2 separate regions of the Homo sapiens genome follow, and region 2 is linked to region 1. A link means that fine-mapping ties the variant in region 1 to the expression of a gene that starts in the linked region. Tissue or cell type: spleen. Region 1 holds a variant in brackets; the other region holds the start of a gene. All regions are shown on one strand. Distances are from middle to middle.

Region 1 (11,427 bases):
GTTAGGTGAGAGGCACTCTTTCTTACAGACTAAGAGCTTTTAAGGATTTAGGGTGGGAGAGGTTATCAGAGGCTTGGACTGCTTTTGTGTTTCTTTGTTGTGCTTATCTGGGAGGGACAGTTTTGTATCTGTTCCCATACCTCTTCCTGCAGCTGCAGGCATACTCCCTGAGTCTGCTTTTAGCTTCCCAATCTTAGTGCACCTGAAGGGAAAGGAATGTGCTTATTAAGGCGCACTGTTTTACTGGGGCCCATTGTATGAGGGTGAAGTTTGGCAGTTACCTAAGATACTCCCACCTCCTCCACCACCACCCCAACACCCATACCCAAGCTGTTTTATCTGTGTTTTACTGTCTGCTCTTTCTGGCTGCTTGTTGTCAAAAGAGAAGTGATTTCCTTGAAATGCATGAGGCTAGAAAGGGAGCTGGAACTTAAAGTGGCGATGTTTGTCCAAGATGACAGTGCTCCTGCTCTGTCAATAGTAAATAATATAATTGGGTTGTGTGATTCCTCCAACTTCACTGTCTTTTTAAAAATTGTTTTAGAAACCTAACACAGTAGGCACAAGGTCTGTATAAAGAAAACTATAAGACTCTAATGAATGGAATGAAGGGATATTCAATTTTCAAGGATAGAAAGACTCATTATTGTCAAGATGTCAATTCTAACTTGATCTATAGATTGCCTAAAATCCCAGTCAAAATCCTAGCATGTTGTTTTGTGGATACCAACAAACTTATTTTAAGGACTAAAATATGTTTTATGTGGAAAGGCAAAAGACTAAGATTAGCCAACACAATATTAAAGAAGAAGACAGTGGGAAGACTAACACTTCCCAACTTCAGGTCTTACTATAAAGTTACGATAATTAAGACAGTGTGATATTAAAGAAATAATAGACAAAAAAGTCAAAGAAATGCAATAGACATCCCAGAAATAGACCTACAGAAATATAGTCAACCAACTTTTGACAAGGAATCAGAGGCATTTAAATTAAGAATAATCTTTTCAGCTAATTATACCAGAACAAGTGGACATCCACATGGAGAAAATGAAGTTAGGCACAGACCTTAAACTCTTCACAAAAGCTCACATAAATTCAATCACAGACCTAAATGTGAAAATAAAATTTTAAAAAACCTATGAAACACATAGAAGATACCACAGGGGAAAACCTAAGTAACTATGGTTCGAGAAAACTTCTTAGATACAACCCAAAAAGGAACATCTGTGAAAGAAAAAATTGATAAGTTTGGCTTCATAAAAATGAAAAAATTCTGTTAAGAGAACAAAAAGGAAAAACGAGAAACGAGGATAAAAGTTTTGCAAAAAAAATCTGACTGAAGATGTGTATCAAAAATATATTCAGAACCCTCAACTCAATAACAAGAAAGCAATCCAATAAAAATGGACAAAAGATCTGAGTAGATACACACTACACCAAAGAATATATACACATTGCAAATAATCATGTAAAAAGATGATTAGCATCTTATGTCACTAGGGAATTACAAAGTAAAACAGGATACCACTACACATCTTTTAGAGTGGCTAAAATCAAAATGCCTGAAAATTTCAAACACTCAACAGGAGGCTGAAGAACAGGTACCCTCAGTCATTGCTGATTTTAATTTGAAAAAAAAATACACTCACTCTAGAAACAGAATTGTATTATTCTATGCATTTTAAATCTGGAAATGGTAAAAAAAAAAAAAGTAGATAAAGAAAACACACTAAACACACTGTTTTTGCTGTGATTTGGGTAGGGGGTGGTGGTTGACTATCAAGGTGAAGCAAGAGAAATTTTAGGCTAAAAGAAGGGATCTCTATGACATTTTAGTGGTAGATGTAAGACTCTATATTTGCTATGATAAATAAAAATGTTCATTATAGTGAACGCTGATCTATACAAAGTTTTAAAAATCAGCCATGCATTGGGTTTTCAAAAGGATGCTGAGAAAAGAATGGATTTTACAGGACTGAATGTGAAAGGAGAGGCACCAGCAAAAGAGGGTTTGTCTTAGTCTAGGTGAGAGATGAACCACAGAGGTAGTAATGGAGATCAATTGAAGTGGAGGGACTTCACATGGGTTTTAGAGGTTGGGGTAACAAATGCTGCTGTTGGATTTGATAAAAATTGAGAGAAAGGGAGGCATCAAGTATATCAAAACATGTGCCACCTATAGCAAAAAAGTCACATTGAGCTATTATTTTTTAATAAGTTGTCAGCCCTCATGTTTATTTTATAACTTCTCTGAACCACACACAAATGCTCCTTCTTCCTTGAACTCAGGGAATGCCCTCCCCTCCCCCAAACCTGTGCGCAAAACATCTATATTCATGGCAACTATGGTAAATCTTCGGTGACAGAGGCAGCATGTTCTTTGAAGGCTGAATCTACGTGAGAATAAGGAACTGAAGGTGAGTCATTTGGGGCATGTTTGGAAAATGGTTGTGTTCACTCCTTTAAAAGGTCCCTGACACTCCCCATTGATTGAATCCCAAGAACGTTAGTCCCTCTCTCTTCTGGACAGGAGACTTATTTCCAATACCAGGAGGTAAAAGAATAGGTTTCCATTTTCTTTTTATCATCCATAAGAAATGCTCCCTTCTTGGGACCTCAGAAGAACAACTCCATGAAGATAATTCCCGAGGGCATGGGACCAGAGCTGGAATTTACCCACCAGCTGCCTCCCAGTCTAGGAGAAGAGCTTCCTTGTCTGTGGGTTTCCACCTTGAGCGCTGAGGTTTGGTCCACCAATCCTGGCTATGAGCAGAGTCCCACTGCCCCGGGACACTGAGCCAAAGCTGAAGAAGGAAGTCAGCTCATGAACGGCTGAGTTGATCCTGGCCATAGTCAATGAAGAGGGCCCCAACCCTCAGGGAAGTCTCTGGCAAAGCCACAAGTCAGCCTTTTTTGGAATCTCAGGGTTCCTGAATCCTGCTGAGGGTCCTGTCAGGAGTAAGAACAGCTGAAAGGAAGTATGTGAATCTCCTATCTATGTGGAGAGGAAAATAAACCTCTATTCCCATCACATTTGGGCAAACTGGCACTGCCTCTTAAGTCAGTAAAGTATTTGTGGACCTGGTCAGGTTTCTGTCATCAACACAACATCCCCCATTCATGACTTTCTGGAGTAGAACTGCTCACATTATATTTCTTGGACCCCCAGAGTTCCAGAGGTCAGCAGGAGGACTGGCCAAGTAAGAGGGAATTAATGCAAAGTTGTCCCAGGTAGCCTTCCCCCAGCCACTATTGAGATTTCAAGTCCTGCTCTCAGGAAGCAAAGGTTCATGAAAGCAGTCAGGCCTTTTATGGCTGAGACAAGGGGGCAGAAGTAGCTGCTATTTCCTGTGCTCCTCTTTGACTCTTATCTTACTTCTCCCTGGTACTGAAGTGACCAAAGACCCCAGCCTCTTTCAGTGCTTTCAAATCCAGCCTTACAGATGCTCTAATTTACTCATACTGCGAACTTGCTTAAAGATAATTTATACAAAGACTTATTATTCTAAGAATGTCTGTGTATTTCTGAGGTTTTTTATAATAAACATATTTTAAGGTAGGTTTTGAATTTCCCTGTAATTGTTTTTTCTGTTTAATATGAAAAAGGGTTCCACTTACATTAGGGTTTTTGTATGGATATTCTGTTGTTCCACTGACACTTATTTCAAGAAGACTGTCTCCTGTTCTAAAGCTGCAAGTTTTAAAAATCAGTTAAGCACATGTTTATACATGTTTTGTTGGTTTTGTTTTTCAGAACTCTCCATTCAGTTCCTTTGGTCTATCTGTCAATCTCTGCACCCAAATCTCAAACTCTTCATTATAGTAGCTTTGTAATTCTTACTGTCTGGTAGACTAATGACTCTTTTTCAAGTGTATATTGACTATGCTTGTCCATTTGCATGTCTTTATATTTTAGAATCAGGTGATTCACACATGCCTTCATGTCCAAAGCCCTTTGGCAGTTTTGATTTAGGATTGCAGTCGATCTGTAGATTCCTTTTTGGGAAGAATCAACATATTTAAAATATTGAATCTTCATGCCCATGAATTTATTTTATTTTATGTTCAGGTAGGTCTTTGTTAATATGCCTCAACAGCATTTTAATATTTTTGTCTGTAAAAATTTTTTGGTTAAGCTTTTTTAACCAAAAAATATTTTAACCAGCCATCAGCTGCCTCCCAGTCTTATTTGGTTAAAATGTTTTTGGTTAAATTATTTTCCTAAGATACTTGATATTTTGGTACTATAGGTTAAAATTATATAGTCTTTACTTTCATTTTCATACTCTTTCCCTGACAAAAAACGAAGTTGATATTCTTTTGAATATTGACCTTATACTAGCAAACTGATATACTATTATATATTGAATAAATTATCTTTAGTTGTTTTGGATTCTTTTCATGCACAGTCTAATCATGCATGAATCACAAACGCTTTGTTTCCAACTGGCCAATCCTCATTCCTTCATTTACTGCTCTTTGGATTACTACACTGGCTACTACCTCTAGTATAAAAAGTAATAGAAGTACTTGTAGCAGAAACTCTAGGTTAGGTCTCAAGTTCAAACTAGAGGCTTCCAACATTTCCTTAAAAGATGTATCTGTTGTAGGTTTTTCATGCATATCCTTTTATCTAGTTTGGTAACATTTTTCATATTTGATAAACTTTATGTTTAAATAATTTTAGATTTACAAGAAAATTATAACAATAGTAAGAAAGTTCTCATATGTTCCACACTCAATGCCTCCTGTTATTAACACCTTACCTTGGTAAGGTTTCCTAAAACTAATGAGCCAGTATTTGTACATTGTTTTTAACAAACATTCTTTATTTATTATTGAACATACTTCAGTCACATTTTCTTACTTTTCACGAAATTCTATTTTCTATGCCAGGATCCCCTAAGGATACTCCATTACATTTAGTTATCATGTTCCTTCGATGCCCTTTGGCTGTACCGGTTGATTGAGACATTTCTCGATTTTGAAAACATTGACAGTTTTGACAGTTTCGTATGGTTAGGTATTTTGTAAAATTGACTTTGACTGGGATTTATGTGATTTTTTTCTGTCATGATTTGATGTAGGTAATGTTTCCTGGAAGGATGAACAGAGAGGTGAAGTGCCGTTCTTATCATACCGACAGCACATAGTACCAACAAAATTTGTCACTGATGATGTTAACTTGATTACCATGGCATCATCGTGCTTTTTAGCTTTATTCAGGGTAAAATTACATTATTTTTTGCCGTATGTTATACTGTCATCATGAGAAGAACAGGGAGACCCAGGACCAGCCAGTAGTCACATGAAGCCTCTGAGAGATAACTGCAAGACTCCCTGCCCACAAAGAGAAGGATCCACAGAATCCAGCTCCACTGCTGCTGTCAGCCCTGGGAGGCCCTGGGGCATGGTGGCCCACTGTGGTGTCCCCCTGACATTTTAGAGGGTAGAAAGAGGAGAAGGCTCTGCCTAGGTGAGTCTCACTTCAGATCATGAGAGGTGAAGGGACTCAGGCCCTTCCAGGCATCCCCAGGATGACACAGAGGAAGGACTGGTGAGACACCCCTCCCAAGAAACAGAAGGACACACAAATCCAGGCCCTGTTTTCACCCCTGGGAGGCCTTGGGCAGGGCCCTCAGTCAGAGATGCTAGCGCTTTTCACTTCGTCTTGGGGGGCGTCTCATGGAAATGGGGACCTTGATCTGAAGAACATAGTCTCTGGACAGCAGGGGAAGGGCTCCCAGGCCATGTCAGGAATAATAACTGCAGGAAAACAGAGAGTCCTGCCCACCCCATTTTAGAAAAAGGACACCAGAGTCCTGCCTTGGGCCTGGGAGGCCCCACCCCACTGTGGGTGGATGTGATTCTCCCTCTCTTGCACCTTGCAGGTCTCAGGGATGGGAGGGGCTTATTCGGAGGTGAAAGACTCAGTTGCACAGAGGCAGGAAGGCCAGGCGGTTTCCAGGAGTCCAGGCACAGCCTCTCGGGAAGGCAGGAAGGGAACACCCATGACTGGTAGTGCCCCTCCCCTGTCCCTGTGCCTGCTGCCAGCTCTGGAGGACCCTATCAGGGTCCCCAGGTTTACAACTTTCTGACTTGCATTTTGGGAGTCAGCCGGAGGGGAAGTTTTCTCTGAGGAGGGCAGTTTCAGTTAAGCAGAGGGAGGAACCCCAGGACTGGCCACTCAACGAGAAGAGAACTCTGTGGAAGGACAGTGACCTTCCAACATGGAGGAGAGGCACAGGCTACACCCTT[T/C]CCCTTCCTGCCGTCAGCCCTGGAAAAAGGTTGTGGGGGGAGAAAGCGGGGAGGTGGGCAGGGAAATATGGACGAGGGCTTTGAAGTGAGGAGGAAAAGGTGGAGGGATACCGAGAGGTGGGCAGGAAGGGGTGGAAAGGGTCGGGGAGGTAGGCAGGAAGGGGTGGAGGGGGCCCAGGAGATGGGCAGGAAGGGGTGGAGAAGGGCCGGGAGGTGGTCAGGAAAGTGTGGGAAAGAGGTAGAGAGGTGAGGGGTGGTTCCTCCATAGAGAGGAGACCTAGCCCCACTGGGAGTCTGAAGTATTTGAGGCATTTTGTGAGAAGGCTTAATTGAGATCAGCAGACAGAAGACTCTTAGAACTGGCCGATCCTCAAGGTAAGGGCCCTAAGGGAGAACTGAGGGACCTCCCACCACAGAAAGAAGAAGCTCTTGCCTGCCCTCTACCTGCTGTGAGATTGTAGGTCGCAGACAGGAAGAGGGTAACCGAGGGCTGAGGGACACGTCTTCATGACAGAAGAAGGGAGGAGGTGCCAGCTCTCTAGGGAATAAATAGGAAGACTTTGAGAAGGACAAGGGGAAACGCCACCTCAGAGGACAGACTCCCAGAGATTCCCAGCATGCTCCTCCATATCAGCCCTCGTAGAGCTCCCCAGTCAGCTCAGGCTGAGCGGCAGCCCTCTCATTGCTGGGTGAGAGGTGCAGGGAAAGGGAAGGCCTTGGTCTGAGGGTCCCGTGGCAAATCAGCACAGGGAGCTGCCTCCAGTTGGCAGAGGGAAGATTCCCAGGCCCTGCTGGGGATAAGAGTGAGGACTGAGGAGTCACATGTGCATCAGAACAGATGTGAGGCCAGCCCAACTGCCCCCGTGGTAGAGTGCTGGGAGGTGGCTGCCACCTCACTACCTCCCACTGCTCTCAGGGATGTGGAGTTTGCCCTGAGTTTTGGCTAGAAGAGTGGTAGGGACATGGCCCTGTCTGAGAAAAGGTGAGGATGCTAATTAAATTCTGATGGGACCATGCAGTCCAGAACTGTGGGGCTCTGGGAGTCTGGTCAGCCCCAGCTGTCAGCCTTGGGAGGCCCAAGACTCTGCTTGCAGTCTTTAGCCTGAGGGGCTCCCTCACTTCCTCTTGCAGGTGCTCCAGGAACCAGGAGTTGAAGACCTGGGTCTGAGGCACACTTCCTAAAGTCAGCACAGCAGAGGAGGCCCAGGCAATATCAGGAGTCAAGGTGAGTGCACGCCCTGACTGTGTACCAAGGGCCCTACCCCCACAAACAGAGCAGACCTGGCAGCACCTGGCCATAGCCACCTACTGCCATTCCTGGTGCCTCAGGCTCTGCCTGCCAGCTGTGCCCCGAGGTGCTTTCTCACATCCTCCTACAGGTTCCCAGGGGACAAACCCCCTAGGATGGCAGGTGACCCGTGAGGCCCTAGAGCACCACCTTAAGAGAAGAAGAGCTGTAAGCCGGCCTTTGTCAGAACCACCATGGGTGAGTTTCTCAGCTGAGGCCACTTGCAGTGTCCCTCTCTCCCTCAGGCCTGTTGGATGCCATCATCCACATCCCTGCTCACACATTTACCTCCTGCTCCTAAGGAAGACGTTATGCCTGTGTTTTGAAATGTTCCTAGCGGCAACTTTGAGAAAGACTTCCAGAACCAAACTGTGATAGAGAACTTGGCAGATGCACAGGATTCCACAGAGGAGGAAGAGGAGAAAACCTCCTCCATTTCCTCTTCCTCTTTCTACTTATTATTCCCCTCCTCTTCCTTCTCTTCTTCCTCCTTCTCCTCCTCTTTCTCCTCTTCCTCCTCCTCCTCCTCCTCATCCTCTACTCTGATTCTTGGTGCTCATGAGGAGGAGGAGGAGTAGCTGTCTGCTGGGATGCTGCCTCTTCCCCAGAATCCTCCTGAGAGTCCTCCCCAGGGTCCTCTCCAGGGTTCCCTGTCCTGCTCCTCCTCCACTTTATGAAGCCCATTCAATGAAGAGCCTAGCAGCCAATAAGATGAAGATACAAGTACCTGGCACAGCTTGCCAGAGAGCGAGCCCTTGTTCACTTATACACTGGATGAAAAGGTGGACAAGTTGGTGCAGTTTCTTCTCCTCAAATATCAAGCAAAAGAGCCTCTCACAAGAGCAGAGATGCAGATGAATGTCATCAACACATACACGGGCTACTTTCCTATGATCTTCAGGAAAGCCCGTGAGTTCATAGAGATTCTTTTTGGCATTTCCCTGACAGAAGTGGACCCCGACCATTTCTATGTCTTTGTAAACACATTAGACCTCACCTGTGAGGGGAGTCTGAGTGATGAGCAGGGCATGCCCCAGAACCGCCTCCTGATTCTTATTCTGAGTGTGATCTTCATAAAGGGCAACTGTGCATCTGAGGAGGTCATCTGGGAAGTGCTGAATGCAATAGGGGTGTGTGCTCAGAGGGAGCATTTCGTCTATCGGGAGCCCAGGGAGCTTGTCACTAAAGTTTGAGTGCAGGGACATTACCTGGAGTAGCGACATGTGCCCAGTAGTGCTCCTCCACGTTATGAATTCCTGTGGGGTCCTAGAGCCCATTCAGAAACTAGCAAGAGGAAAGTAGTGAGATTTTGGTCATGTGAAACAATACCGTCTCTAGTTCCTTTCCAATCTCTTCCAAGGATGCTTTGAAAGATGTGGAAGACAGAGCCCAGGCCATAATTGACACCAAAAATGATGCTACTGCCATGGCCAGTGCAAGGTTCCGTGTCATCTCCAGAAACTTCTCCTGTCCTGAGTGAAGTATAGGGCCGTTTCTTACGTCTGTGTTTGAAGAGGGCAGTCAGGGTCCTAGGTAGTGGAGGGCCCGGGTGGGGCTTGAGGGAACAATACAGTGTTCTTTGCATTTCTGTTCCATATGGGAGAGATAGATTTACCTCGTTTCCTTTTGTGTACTTTTTGAATGATTTTCCTTTTAATAGTAGGTTGAATTAGCTTCAGAATATTATTTTATAAATATTAGTCACACATATATTGCTGTTTATCTAGTTTAAGAGTAACAGTTTGATATTTTGTAAAAAAAAATGGAAAAAGCTTGTCTCTTATTTTGTGATCTATAACAGGATAACATGGTATTGTACTAGGAATTTTCTTTAAATTATGTAAGAACTCAGCAGTTAAATAGTGGAACGAAATAAAGGATGGTGAATAGTTACATTTCCTTATCCCGTTTATACTGTTGTTCTTGAAAATTAAAGAAATAGACCTGGCTTTGCTTAGCTCATTCAAGAAAGTAGCAGAAATTAAATGTTAATAAATAAAAGCATCTCTGACGGCTTTATTTGCCTAACATTCTGTGAGCATTTGCTTGCGGAGGGGACTCTTAATAGTGGGGATACAGTGAAAAGCAAGAGTTATGCCTTACCTATAAAACAATAGAGTCTAGGAGCAGAAGCCATGTCAAGAAGGTGGTAAGATGCTCTCTACAATCATAAGTTTCAAAAAAGTGGGGAGGTGAGACTCCAGATGGAGTCTTCAAGTATAAAGTCCCTGAGCTAAGGTAGTGTGGGGCTTCGGGAAACTGCAGGTGCTTCTGTGGGAGCTGATTGTTATGAAGCTGGGTGGTGGCAGGGGCCAGACTCTCAGAAGGTGAGAGAAAAGCCTGCAATGGAAAACTGCTCTGAGCAGTTCCTTCTGGGTGGATGATGAGGGAGAGAGGAGTCTCCATGTGGGGAAGTAATGGAAGCTGTCTTGCAGCTCTCTAACTGGTGAGCTTGAACACAGTGCAAGGACTAGGTGATTGATACCCATCATTTGCAAGTGTTTCCTGAGAAATAAGGCGATAATTCCTTGAAATGCTGCCCAGAAGCTTCTAGGCTGGCACTCATTTTCCTAGCCTGGGAGAGCCAGAGTCCATTCCATTGAAAGGTCATTTAATTAGGTTATTTTAAATGTAATGTGGGCAACTGTAAGCAAGGGCTAGATTTTTAGTGGAGGATAAATAGAAATAGTTGTTTGGATGGATGAGCAAAGGGGAAGGTGAAAAGGAGTTGGTCCTTGATTCAAATTCAGCACTTTGATGTAAATTTTCAGTTTGGATAGTGACAATTCCATATCTATCCTGGGCATCTTCAAACACTCTCAAAATACTCCCACATAGGGTGGTGAGTAGAATCTGATTTGCCACATAATATACTGGTTCTAGGGATGTAATCTTAGGGTAAGAGATAGAGTTTTTGAGATCATCCTAATATTTGATATTTGTATTGGGATTTTAATATATGATATTTGTAGTAACATTGTTTGAAGCAGGCCACTGAAGAGATACACAGATGAATGAGCTATACCAGGTGGTCAAAAAGCAAAGCTTCCTTCATAAACTTGGTATATGAGATAAAATTTTGGAAATCACTTTGTAAATAAATTACAAGGAGCTGAATTTCTAAAAACAGAACAATAACAAAATCCTTAATACTGCTTAGAAGGTGACAAGTGTTCCTTGACAGACAGGCTAGCTCTGATGAGAAAAGAAAATTATGGTTAACCATCCTTCCATTGTCTCTTTTCTGTGTACCTGCCCCACAGGAAAATCTTGGTTTGCAGTGTGCCACAGGCACATGTACAGCTGTTCAGGAATGTTCAGTCATGTAGAGGGTATTAGAATCTCTCATGGTAGGATATTTACCGTATACCAAAAGCAGTGAGAGAATTCTCAGTCTAAAGAGATTGTATTGTGTGATGGTTAATACTGAGTGTCAACTTGATTGGATTGAAGGATGCAAGTATTGTTCCTGGGTTTGTCTGTGAGGGTGTTGCCAAAGGAGGTTAACATTTGAGTCAGTGGGCTGGGAAAGGCAGGTCCACCCTTAATCTGCATGGGCACAATCTAATCAGCTGCCAGTAGGACCAGAATAAAAAGCAGGCAGAAGAATGTAAAAAGGCTAGACTGGCTTAGCCTCCCAGCCTACACTTTTTTTTCCTGTGCTGGATGCTTCCTGCCCTCTAACATCAGACTCCAAGTTCTTCAGCATTGGGACTCGGACTGGCTTCCTTGCTCCTCAGCTTGCAGATGGCCTATTGTGGGACCTCACGATCATGGGAGTTAATAAACTCCATAATACACTCCCCTTTATATATACCTCTATCCTATTAGTTCTGTCCCTCTAGAGAACCCTGAGTAATACAGATTTTTGTACCAGG
Region 2 (11,427 bases), 40 kb before region 1:
AATGCTATTGGTTATTATCATTAATTTGTCTATGAGTCTTCTCATTAAGTGGGGAGCTGATTTGACTTACATATTTGTTCTCGTGTGTCATCACATTAAGTTTTTTTCTCTGATTTTATTTAGCCTGTTTTGTTTCATTTCTTATCTGAAGAATACCAAAGATCTCAACTAATTTTTATTCTGCTAAGTTTTTGTTTTATATTTTTAAAATGCACATTCAATTTAAAATTTTCAGATACCACTTTTAGAGCCACAAGAGTTTCTTTAAATTCTTCTCTATGAAATATTAATAGCCACATCTGATGCTTGAAACCTTCTTTGTATTTTCTCAGGGATTTATAAAACTCCCACAACCACTTTGCGAGACAGGAACGTATTTTATCTTCAATTTGCAGGGCACAAAGCTGAAGTCGAGAAGAGTCAAACATTGAGACAGGGTCACATAAATATTTCTTGTTAAAGCTACATTCAAAATAAGTTTTGGCTAGTTCTTAAGGCCAAAATTACAATAAGTTAAAGTGAAGAAATGATTACTTCTTCCCAAAATCAGTCCCACAGTGAGTAAGCCTAATTCCAAAACAGTGATCCTAACGTTGGATCTGTTTTCACATATTTATGAAAATATGTTTTTATGAATACATCTATATATTTATAAAATCTCTTCATTTCCTGTGTAGTTTTAATGTTTCCCAAGCCTATACTTTAAATTACTAAATTTTTTATAGGGTTGATTATGTTCCTTATTGTTTCCTATTGATTTTAGAGTTATTTTTTAGTTTCTCCACTTGTTAAATATCTGTGGTCACTTTTGTTCTTCAGCCACTACTGCAGAACCTGGCAACAAATACTACTTAGCTAGTTGTCTTTGCTTGCTGTATTCCTGTTCTCTTCCCTTCTATGTTATAGAGCATTTTACATATTGGTGCTATGCTGTTATTATTTGTTTTTCTTCTCGTTTATTTTGAATTGGGGCCATGGATTGTCCCCACTGCCAAAAATAGATGAATACGTTTTCCTTGATATCTCTGTTCTAGGAAAATCTTTGACTTAACCCTCTCTCTCCACTTTGAACAGTGGTTCTCAAACATGGATGTGAAAAAGTACAGAGCATCAATCACCCCTCCAGACCTACTAAAGAAATCTTCCAGTTGCAGCTTCAGAATCTGTCTTTTTTAGCCCAACTTCCAGAACTGGTCTGCATATTTTTTTGGACCAATGCCTTGAAACATGCACCGAACAATTTGCACATTTATTGTTTTTATTCTTTGTTCAGTCATTTAGCTCCTTTATGGGAACAGGGGGCTTGGGGGACAGTGAGGAGATATCTGGGGCTGTGAGTAGTTGCAGTCAGGAAGTTTTTTTCTTAGTTGTTGGTTTGTTTCTTAGTTGCTCAGTTTGATTTTTTGGCTCCTATGCACTGGCATCAGCAGCACCGTGTTGGGGGCATGCTCTCATCTGTTGGTGAAGAATGGCCTTTTTGTGTTTCAGTTTACTCCCTCTCAAAGTGAGAAATTCATTTTCATAAAAAGTCCAGGGTTGTTGAGGTTTTTGTTTTGTTTGACCCTATGTATTTTTCTGTGCAGAAGGCTGTGGCTATGATTCTCAAGAGATTGCTTCTACTTCTCTCTGATATTCTGTCTGTTTAGAAGGAAGATAAACTACAGGTTGGCAGGTAGTTAGGGAGGCAATCACATCGGTTGTATGGCTTTGCATCTTGTCCAGCATTTAGTTTCTCAGGAATGCTTATTTGCAGTGGAGAAACAAGCTCCACACAGTGCAGCCTACACTTCCTCCAGATCTGCTCAAGTCTAATTTCCTTGCTTCTTCAAATTGGAATATCTGGACCAAGGTAGTGATAGGGGTTATATATTGATTTTTGAGTCTTCTTTCAATCTGGGCCAAATTATACTGGATCTGAATCATACCTCAAGAATTATATTGATTAAGACTCAGTTTTGTTTCAAGTTTCAGCATTGATGAATCCTTTCTGTTCATTTTGGTTAGTCACAGGGTGAGAGGTTTTATAAGCCAACACTATTTCCGCTTGCTTTCCCATAGCTTATTCAGTATATTGAAAAATTTTCAGGAAACAACAGCAAAATCCTACATAATATTCCTTGTTGAATATCAAATTTCTGTTTTTGACTTTCCATTGGAATAAGTCAGGAATGTCTACGTAAGACAATGCTTGAGGGTAAAAGATGAGTGAATGCGGAGATCTTTGTGAGATTGAGATGGCTGGCATCAGCTCTGAAGCCATGCGATCATTAATAGTAAGTTTCTGCTCTGCCATTTACAGATGCTGTAATCTGAATCGATCTTTCAATTTGTTCAAAATTCAGTTTTCTTTTAACTTTGTAAAATAAAAATAACTCTTGTTACTACATGTTGGGACATTTTTAACAGATTAAATGTGATAATATAAATCTGAAGTATTGAGCACTGTACCTGGCATAGAATGAGCTCATTATAATATCAGTCTCCTTATTCTTTCCCTTGTCTAACCATCAGTGGTGAGAAACAGCTGTTGATTTGCCAAAATATATGCATAATTTTATAAATGAAAACATCCAAAATCTCTTTGGGTGGCCTATTAAGGAATGAGCTACAGGGTTTTTCACCTTTATTACTATTGACATTTTGAGACAGATAGTTCTGTGGGCTTTTTTGAGGGGGTGTCATCTTGCTGAATTTAGAATGATTAGCAGCATTCCTAGTTTCTATTCAATAGATGCCGATAGCACCAAGAGCCATCCCAGTTGTGACAACCAAAAATATTTCCAGACTGCAAAATGTCTTCTTGGGATGGGGTGCAAAATCACCCCCAATCTGAGCACTACTGAGCTAGAGGAATGAAAAGGACATTGTGTTGGAAGAGGGTAGGGACTTAAGCTTTGAAATGTTGTTCATAGCTTGGAAGAGGCCCACCTTAGCCGTTTCTGCCATTGGGTGAACTAGGCTTTTTGTGCCTAGGTGTTAGTGAATGGATGTCAGAGCAGAAGGTAGGAGACAGGAGAAGAGTCTTCTCTATTTAGAGGGAATGGAAAAGATGCAGGGCAGTGTCAGAAGGTTTCAGATCTCTCATGAGCAAATGCAAAACTTCTGTGTTCTCAAGACCGGAAACACATTTCTCAGCCAAGGGAAGAGGCTAATTGAGAGGAGTGATCGTGGCTCTTCTTCATTTTCTTAGTAAGCTCCTGAAGGTGGCAAGACCGCAGAAAAGCAATGCATTTAATACCTCAGGGACTTGTTAGTGCCTGAAATTGAACATGGAGGCATTGGGATGATTTCATTGTGCCTCAGAAGTTATTAAACTGAGTCAGGCAAGTCTGCACTCTGGCTCCCCATGTGCAGGTGCAAGCAGTGGCCCCAGTGGGGATCCGAGGGCAGTTCCCTGGCTGGTGGGGTAATGTTCCAGGCAGGAACACAGCTGCCTCTGCTGCACAAAAAATCTGCCTGAAAAGTGGGAGGCAGCAGGTTGTAATAAGCCCCACTCAGCTCCCACACACTTGGCAAGTCAGTTTTCATACCCACAGTGTTCTGCTAGCAGCAGCAGCTAACTGGGTTTCAAGTGGCCCGTGCTCAGAATTTAAAACCATCCCAGGCCATAAGCTTTCCCTATGGACACAGAAACCATATCTTTCAGGCTGCATCCTTTCCAGTCCACCTGTGAAGCAGGGCCATGCAGCTCATGTGCCTTGTTGCCGTAGCACACTTCTCACTTGCCCCTCGGTTCTGGCCAATCAGCTTTGTCCTTACTAAGGATTATATCACAAATCCCAGTTGGGCTCTTCTCTCAAACTGTGACTGCAGCCTGAGTTAGACTTCTGCAACGTCCCGTGAGGTGGGATCAGGAATGGCTTCCCTCCATTCTTGCTGGAATCTGGGTCTGCACACAAAGCATGTCCCGATGCTGCTCCTTCTTATATATTCCTTACTTTTCACTGAATCACCTCTAGAGCTGAGTAGGTTTGAAGTCCTCCCTCATGACTTGTATTGCCTGGCTCGCCTGTGGGAGTATATGTCATGACAGCAATCTATCCCTCTCTCATGCTCTGGGGACTAATGGTTTTCCATCTGTTTTATGATGTAGTCTGTTGCCTGCCACTTCATTCAAAGGGTCTGTGGTTTCTTTCAGTTTTTCTGTTAAGTTCTTACATTGTTTCTTCGAATAAATTTTACAGCATGAATCTCTACATGCCATTTTGTCTTACCAAGTGGGATAAGTATGCTTATAATGCTTCCAATCTGCCATCTTGGAAAAAAAGAAAAAAAAAACTTTAAATATTTTGTCTGTAATGTGCTATGGAAGAGACCTTTTCACATTGTATCTGTTTAGGAATTGATGGGCCTCCTGTATCTCAATGTCTAAGTGTCTTGCTCGACTTAGGAAGTGTCATCTATTATTTCAATAAATAGGTCTTTGAAAACATGTTTTCTCTCTTTGCCTTCTGGGCTATCAGTGATTTTTATATTTGGTCACTTTATGTTGTTAGATAGATTCCAAAGGTTTATTTTATTATTTTCTTTTTTTCTTTATTTTTGTCTGACAGCGTTATTTCAAAAAAAACTGTCTTCAAGCAAAATGTGATCTTAACATAAGTCAGTTATGATTGAGTATATTGTTGAAGCTTTCATGTGTATTTTTTAGTTTATTCACTGCATTCTTTGGCTCCAGAATTTCTGTTCGTTCCTTTTTTATGGTCTCTATCTCTTTGGTAAAGACAGGGTGGCAGTGGCCATGCTGCTGCCCTGCCACTGGGTGTTGGATGCCACCTTCAGTGATGGCAGTCTAGGCCAGTGGGTGAAAAACACATGTGCCACATATGCCTTATCCCCAGTGGTGCTCCCACCTCAGCCCCAGGTGTGGTAGCCCATGAATGCTCATGTCTAAGCCCCAGGTTAACAGCCAGCTCTTCTTTTGCATCTCAGCCTCAGTGTTGCTTGGCTCCAAGACAGTGTGCAGTCTGTTGGGGGTGAGGCTCTAAGATGCTATCTTGCCCAGCCTTGATGTTCATGTCTTTCCCTTGGTTGCAGTAGCCTGTGGTCGCTCATGTCTGAATCTCCAGGGAAACATCAGACATTTAGTTTGCACCTAGGCCTCAATGCCACTGGGCTCCAGGACAGTATGTAGTTCATCGGGGGTGAGGCTCTGCAGTGGTGCCTCATTTGTGCCTCAGTCCTAAAAGCAGCAGCCCACGCCTTCGTCCCACCTCTGCACCAGATGCTGTAGTCTGTAGTCACTGATGCCTATGTCCCTGGGGCAGCAGTTCGTGCTTCTCTTGCACCTCAGCCCTGGGCTACTGGGCTCCAGGACAGTGCTCAGTCTGTTGAGGGCAGGGCTCTAAAATGGTACTTTGTTGTAGCTGCTTAAGTCTCAAGAAGTGTGAGGGACCCAGCGGGAGCTTTCTCCCTGAAGCAGTGCCATCATACAATCTCCTGGCAGCTTTCTATGTTAGTTTCGGGGCCCATGATGGTTGAAGGGATCTCCTGTGGCTGGGATTATAGGAGTCTATAGTGAGAATGTAAACTACTGAGGCTCTCTCACCTATCCTTTCTCTGTATTTGGAGTCTCTCAGCTCACAGCTGATCCTGGATGAGCAGGCTGCCTTGATTCCCTCTCCATCTCTGCTTTAAGTATTGCCTATCACTTTTCTAATGGATTCCAGTGATTTCCTTTGAATTATATATTCAAAGTGTGATTATCGACTCACCGTTTGGTTATTTTTAATGGAGAAAGTGAGTACAAAATGCCTCTAGTCTGCCATATTCATGGTTTCCAAGAAATAATTTTTAAAGGTTTTTAAATATTTTATGTAATTATAATGATTATGGGCATAAGAAGGATTATGGAGAAGAACGGAGCAAAATAAAAGCTTCATTCACTCTGCTGTCATATTTGATTATATCTTGAGGTCAAATTGATCTTTGCTATTGTCTTGGCTGCCGGCTCTGGCTACAGCTAATCCTGGGCAGGCTTTGCAGCTCCTACCACTTCCAGGCCCACAGCTGCAATCCCAAGCTTGCTCACCAAAACAAGTGTTTATTCATTATATCTTCAGTAGATTTTATTTTATAAATATGAATTGTTTATATGCATTTCTAATATGTCAAATGCTTTACTAGCTTTTTAATATCTTTATATCCATTTTCCCTGGATCATTACTTACTGTTCTTAACTCAGTGGTTCTTAACTGGAAGAGATTTTGCCACTTAGGGGATACTTGCCAATATCTAGAAATATTGTTGGTTGTCATAATTGGTGGCAGCAGGGAATGCTACTGGTATTTAATAAGCAGAGACAGAGATGCTTCTAAGCGTCTTATTGGACAAAGGACGACCTCACACAAGAAAGAATTATACTGCCTAAAATGTGATGGTGCTGACAGTGAGAAACCCTGAGTTTAACATAATTTGCTCAGAACTCTAAAAATGATTCACTTTCCAAAAATTTGCTGCATTTTTTCTTCTGGTCAGAATGTGCACAATGGAAATTCTTCCTGAAGGATTTGTGTGAGGAGACCTATTCTATAGCTGTTAAATGATTGGCAGGGAGGTTGATAGATGGAGGTGAAGTCAGCCAAAACTTAACTGATATTTAACAGCCAGGAAATACCCAACCTGGAAAGTATTCATTCATAGCATCACAAACCACTAAAGAAAAGTGATATTTTACCTCTGAGAAAGTTAACAGCAAAAGTATAGTCTTTCTAATTAGTTTTTAGCTTGCAATCTAAATAAATGACAAGTAGAGAATATCAGGTCATAAAATATCATTTAATTTTAAGAAATATTTTCATAAGAATATTGACATAAAAGTGATTTAAGAAAGTGAAAGTTACATTTAGCACAAGATTTTGCATTTTTCAAAAGTATATGATATTGGAAAAACATATAATTACATATTATTTTGAATTTGTTCTATGTAGCAAACTTTGTTCAGACCTCTTTAAGAACATTTCATAAATTTGGCATCATTACTAACATCTCCATGTTAAGAAGATTTTCACAGAAGCAATATTTTCTTGTGTCTCTAAATGGGAGAGAGTGCCTCTCCTCACTAAATTGCCATATTAAAGTGGACTGTTCAGCATTTATTTTCTTCAACCATTCTGTCTAAAATTCAGCCTGATGTATTAGCATTAGCATGAGTCCTCCTGCAAAATTGGTCAGTGGGTAGTTATGCTTTTGTGTGTTTTTCACATCAAAAAAAAAAACCCCACAAGAACAAAAACAAAACAAACACAAAAATGCTCAGTAAATAGTTAATGAATAAATTGTTCTATTCAAGGGGATTGAGAATGGACCTTGCTCCACTGCTTCTTTTTTTTTCTGTATTTTCAACATCTGCCTTTCTACTGGCTAATTAACTATAGTTTATAAATATGTTTAATATTAAATAAAAATTTAAGTAAGAGGAAGCATCAGGAACCACTTTAAAGGTGAATTGTAAAAAATAATGTGATAATAACTTCACTCTGCTTTTCCTTCTCACTTCTTTTCTTCTTTCTTCTTTTCTTTCCACTTAAGCCTCACAAGAGTGAAGCTTCTTGTCTGTCTCTTCTTACTTACCAGTCACTCTTTCTTCAACCTGGTGCTCTCTGACTCCTGTCTCTACCACTCAAATAAAGCTGTACTTTGCAAGACCATCAAAGCCATTTTAATTATCAAATCCAAAGACTCCTTTTGGATATTTCAGGTCTCCAAACAAATTGCATCTTCTTAAAGAGGAATTTCCTGACCACCTGAGTTAAATCTCATGACATTCGCAAACATATTGCCGTATTTTACATTCTTGATAGTCCCTAGTACTTGATCAAAAAGCTATCTATAGTTATTATACATATTACCTGGGTGATGAAATAATCTGTACACCAAACCCCCATGACACAGAGTTTACCTATATAACAAACCTGCACATATATCCTTGAACCTAAAAGTCAAAAAATAAGAAATCAACTGTAGATATTTGTTTATGTGTTTATTTTCTTTCTGCCCCCACTAGCATAAAATATTATTGAGGGAAGGGACTCAGCCTTGTCCACCAGATCCTAAATGAGACTTAGTAGACACATATTAAGCATTCAAGTAATATCTGTTTACTGACTGGGACTGATCAATTTGCCTCTTACCTGACCTCTCTGGAACATTTGTCAATGATGACCGTTTGCTTCTAGATGCCCCTTCACGGCTTTTGAAATAGTACCCTTCCTTTTCAGTCTATTTTGCTAACTTTCCAATATGATGTGATCTGTTTGAGAAAAGGGACTGCTATTAGCATATTTGCTGGCACATGAAGGACTCGCAGAACACTCATAAAACATCCTTCTATTTGGGCTTCAGTATGAAAGATCTTAACCGAACTGTGTGTTTAAAATGATGTGTATTGAAAGAAGTATTATTTTTGGGCCACGAAAATGCCTAAATATTTCTAGTGTGATAATTAGGTATTGAGAAAGTTGGAAGTGTATGAATATTTAAATTGCTTAATAGTATGAACTGTAGTGTTTTGGTACTTGGTTCATACAATTACTTGACTGAATGCTGTGCAGCCATTAAAATTATATTACAAATTATAATATTAAGATAAACTTAAATTATTTGTTATAAATTAACAAGGCACGACACAACATTATGCATAAAATATAAGTACAACTTTATAAGATGTATGCAACAATGAAAACTAGCAAGGAATGAAACTTGCTCATTTTTTGTTTCAATGATTTTGTTGCATTGTTTCAATGAAACAATGAAAATTATAACAGACTGTAGTAGCAGCTGAGTGATTTTATGGAATTTCAGATGTCTGTTCTTACTTTTCCAGATTCTCTGTAGCCTTTTAACTATCGTATATTTTAAAAACAATTCAAAGCTGAATACACTTTAAGCATCCTGTATAACTTGGAATGAACTTGTGATGAAATGTCAGAAGAGGTTAGTGGTAGGTGTTGTCACGTTTGTTCAAGAAGGAGAGGTTAGTGGTAGTGGTGGCATCTTTGTTCAAGAAAGAAATACATCCCCTTTTATTCATGGCCTTTGTGATTTTCTTTGTGTTTAATGTATTCCACAAGTAGATTCTCCTCTCAAGGTATCGCACCCTGGAAATATAAATAAAGACTTAAATTACTCCCATGAAAGTGACTTCTTCTAGCCCACACAGTGAATCACTGGCAGACCCGGGAATGAAACCTCTCAATTTACACTCTTAGACTTCATAAACATCCCTAAAACACTTCATCTCTCCTACATTGTTAGCTATATAACATTGTTAGCTCCTACATTGTTAGTTCTACATTTATTAGACTATAAGTCTTATGTTTTCCCTTTGATTGCTATTGCTCTAGGTGGCAACAAAAGTCATTCTAACTTCACTTATAAGAGCCAGGTTTGTTTGACACACACATTGTGGAGTTCATTAAATTATTGCTTCTTCTCTGTCATTTATAATTTTGAGAATAAATCTACGTTCTTGAAATTTATTGCACCTGCATTTGCAGAGGCATAGAGAAATGTGGCAATTTATTCATAAAACGCTTTATCATGTAAATGAATGATGGCCAGTCTCTAGTTCACAAGATGATTAGAGTAACAGAAAACACACAAATTCCAGCTTTATACATACAACAGCTTCAAGGCTATGTAGTTAGAAAAATATGATTGGAGGGTTGATCTGAGTTTAATGTATGAATTCACAGCCTCTGCAGGCTGTCCCTTACTCTACAGGAGTAAGGCCATCAACCTGTGTTATAGAAGCTACTAGGCCGGAGTACATCTTTTTGTCTCTGCGCACAAGAATGACTTGCTATCAGCTAATTTAGACAACCCATATACTCCCTTATTAGTGGCTAGCTACATATTTTTGTATTGTTTCTGACTTGAATAAGTTTATTGTGCATACATTGTCCAATTATAGCAACCTTGAGCTGGAGAGAAAGCTCATCTTCTCTAAAGAATACGTGTGAGGGAAAAATAAACTTCCTTCAAACTATATATCACCCCATGAACAGAATGCTCCTCAAGCAGGTATACAACTCCAGAAGAAATATCAGACATTCTCTTAAGAAATTGAATGACTCAAGAGCAAAAACTTTGATACCATTTAGATGATTGCCAGCATAATCCCTACCCAGATAATCAAAGGCAAATCCCTCTGATTAGTAAGCCTTGCCCACATACCAAGCGTGCCCCCATAGGGTTTTTGATGTTAGTTTGTTTTCATTTTAAATATTCAAAAGAGTATATATAAGTGCAATGTAAACAAGCAGACAGACACCTTCAGAAGTCTTAAGAAATATAATATTACCATTAAATTAAAAAGCTTTCCATGTGCTCTCCTCAAGCGCATCCCTTATCCAGGGATTGCCACCACGTTGAACTTTGTAGTACTTATTCCCTTTCTCTTCTCTTTGGAGTGTATGATGTTAATATCCCTCAACAATATATTTTGCAGTTGTCCCTGATTTTGAAGCTTATACGTATCATGTCATACTGTGTAAGTTATTCTGACACTTTTCCGTCCGATATCATGTTTTTGAAATTCAATCCTGTGGATATGTGCAATTATAGTTCACTTAGTTTTACTGATGTACAGCATTCCATTTTATGAATACACTAAAATCTATGTATTAATATTCTTCCAGTGGGCACTTACATTGCTTGGTGGCAAATTTTCAAACTTTCTATTGTCTGAATATGTCATTGTTTCACCCTCACATTTGAAAAATATTTAAATTTGGCGTATGAGTTTAGCTTGGTGGGCCTAATCCCTTCTCATTCCCTTGCTGAAAAGTCAGCTCTCAGTGTAGTTGCAATATGTGAATTATCTTTTCCCTCTGAATTCTTTTAATATCTTCTGTGTGCCTTTGGTATTCTGCTGTTTCACTGTTATGTGTTTAGGTGTGCATTTGTTTTCATTTATTTCACTTAAAATTTGTTGGTCTTTCTGTATTTGAAGTTTAATGTCTTCAAAAATTGTGGAAAAACATCAATTATCTCTTTGACTATTTCCTTGACTCCTATTTTCTAGAGTCTATTGAGATTTTAGTTACATATATGTGAGACCTTCTCACTCAATACACCACATCTTTTAATTTATTTTTTATAATTTAATCTCTGTTTTTATTAGGCAGTATTCCAGATAATTTCTTCAGATTATTTTCCTTTCCAATTTAAAATATCTGTATAGTATTTGCATTAACGAGAAATTTTTATTTAGAAGTAATAAAAACCAATGCCAACATTACCAAACATATGATTCAGCCTTCTAGGAAAGTTTTGGAAATACCCTCTAGTGTAATTGAACATTTTTTTTCTCATTAGCTCACAAGACATTTTATTTCTCAAAAGTAATTGGTAATTTTTTTTTAAGCGCTAACGTTTTCAGCCATTCTAGGATATAGTATATGTTTACTGATACAATATTTTCTT

Direction of the effects. Positions count from the first base shown, and alleles are read on the strand shown. Sizes are in standard deviations (SD) of each study's normalised expression.
As copies of C replace T in region 1, the expression in spleen of the gene that starts at base 4,742 in region 2 goes up (large effect, 1.0 SD a copy in GTEx).

The links. PIP is the estimated chance that this variant, and not a neighbour inherited with it, causes the effect.
Region 2: it holds the start of MAGEC3, and the variant in region 1 is fine-mapped to the expression of MAGEC3 in spleen (GTEx, PIP above 0.99).

What each region holds. Positions count from the first base shown.
Region 1 is chrX:141,873,118-141,884,544 of GRCh38, forward strand. It overlaps MAGEC3 (MAGE family member C3), which reads left to right. Exons shown (of 8, transcript NM_138702.1): 3 at 6,058-6,314; 4 at 8,286-8,679. Among named protein-coding and RNA genes, the nearest start is that of MAGEC1, 25 kb to the right of the region's middle. The variant T/C (reference allele first, on the strand shown) is at 6,262.
Region 2 is chrX:141,833,575-141,845,001 of GRCh38, forward strand. It overlaps MAGEC3 (MAGE family member C3), which reads left to right and starts at 4,742. Exons shown (of 8, transcript NM_138702.1): 1 at 4,742-4,864. The coding sequence starts at 4,742.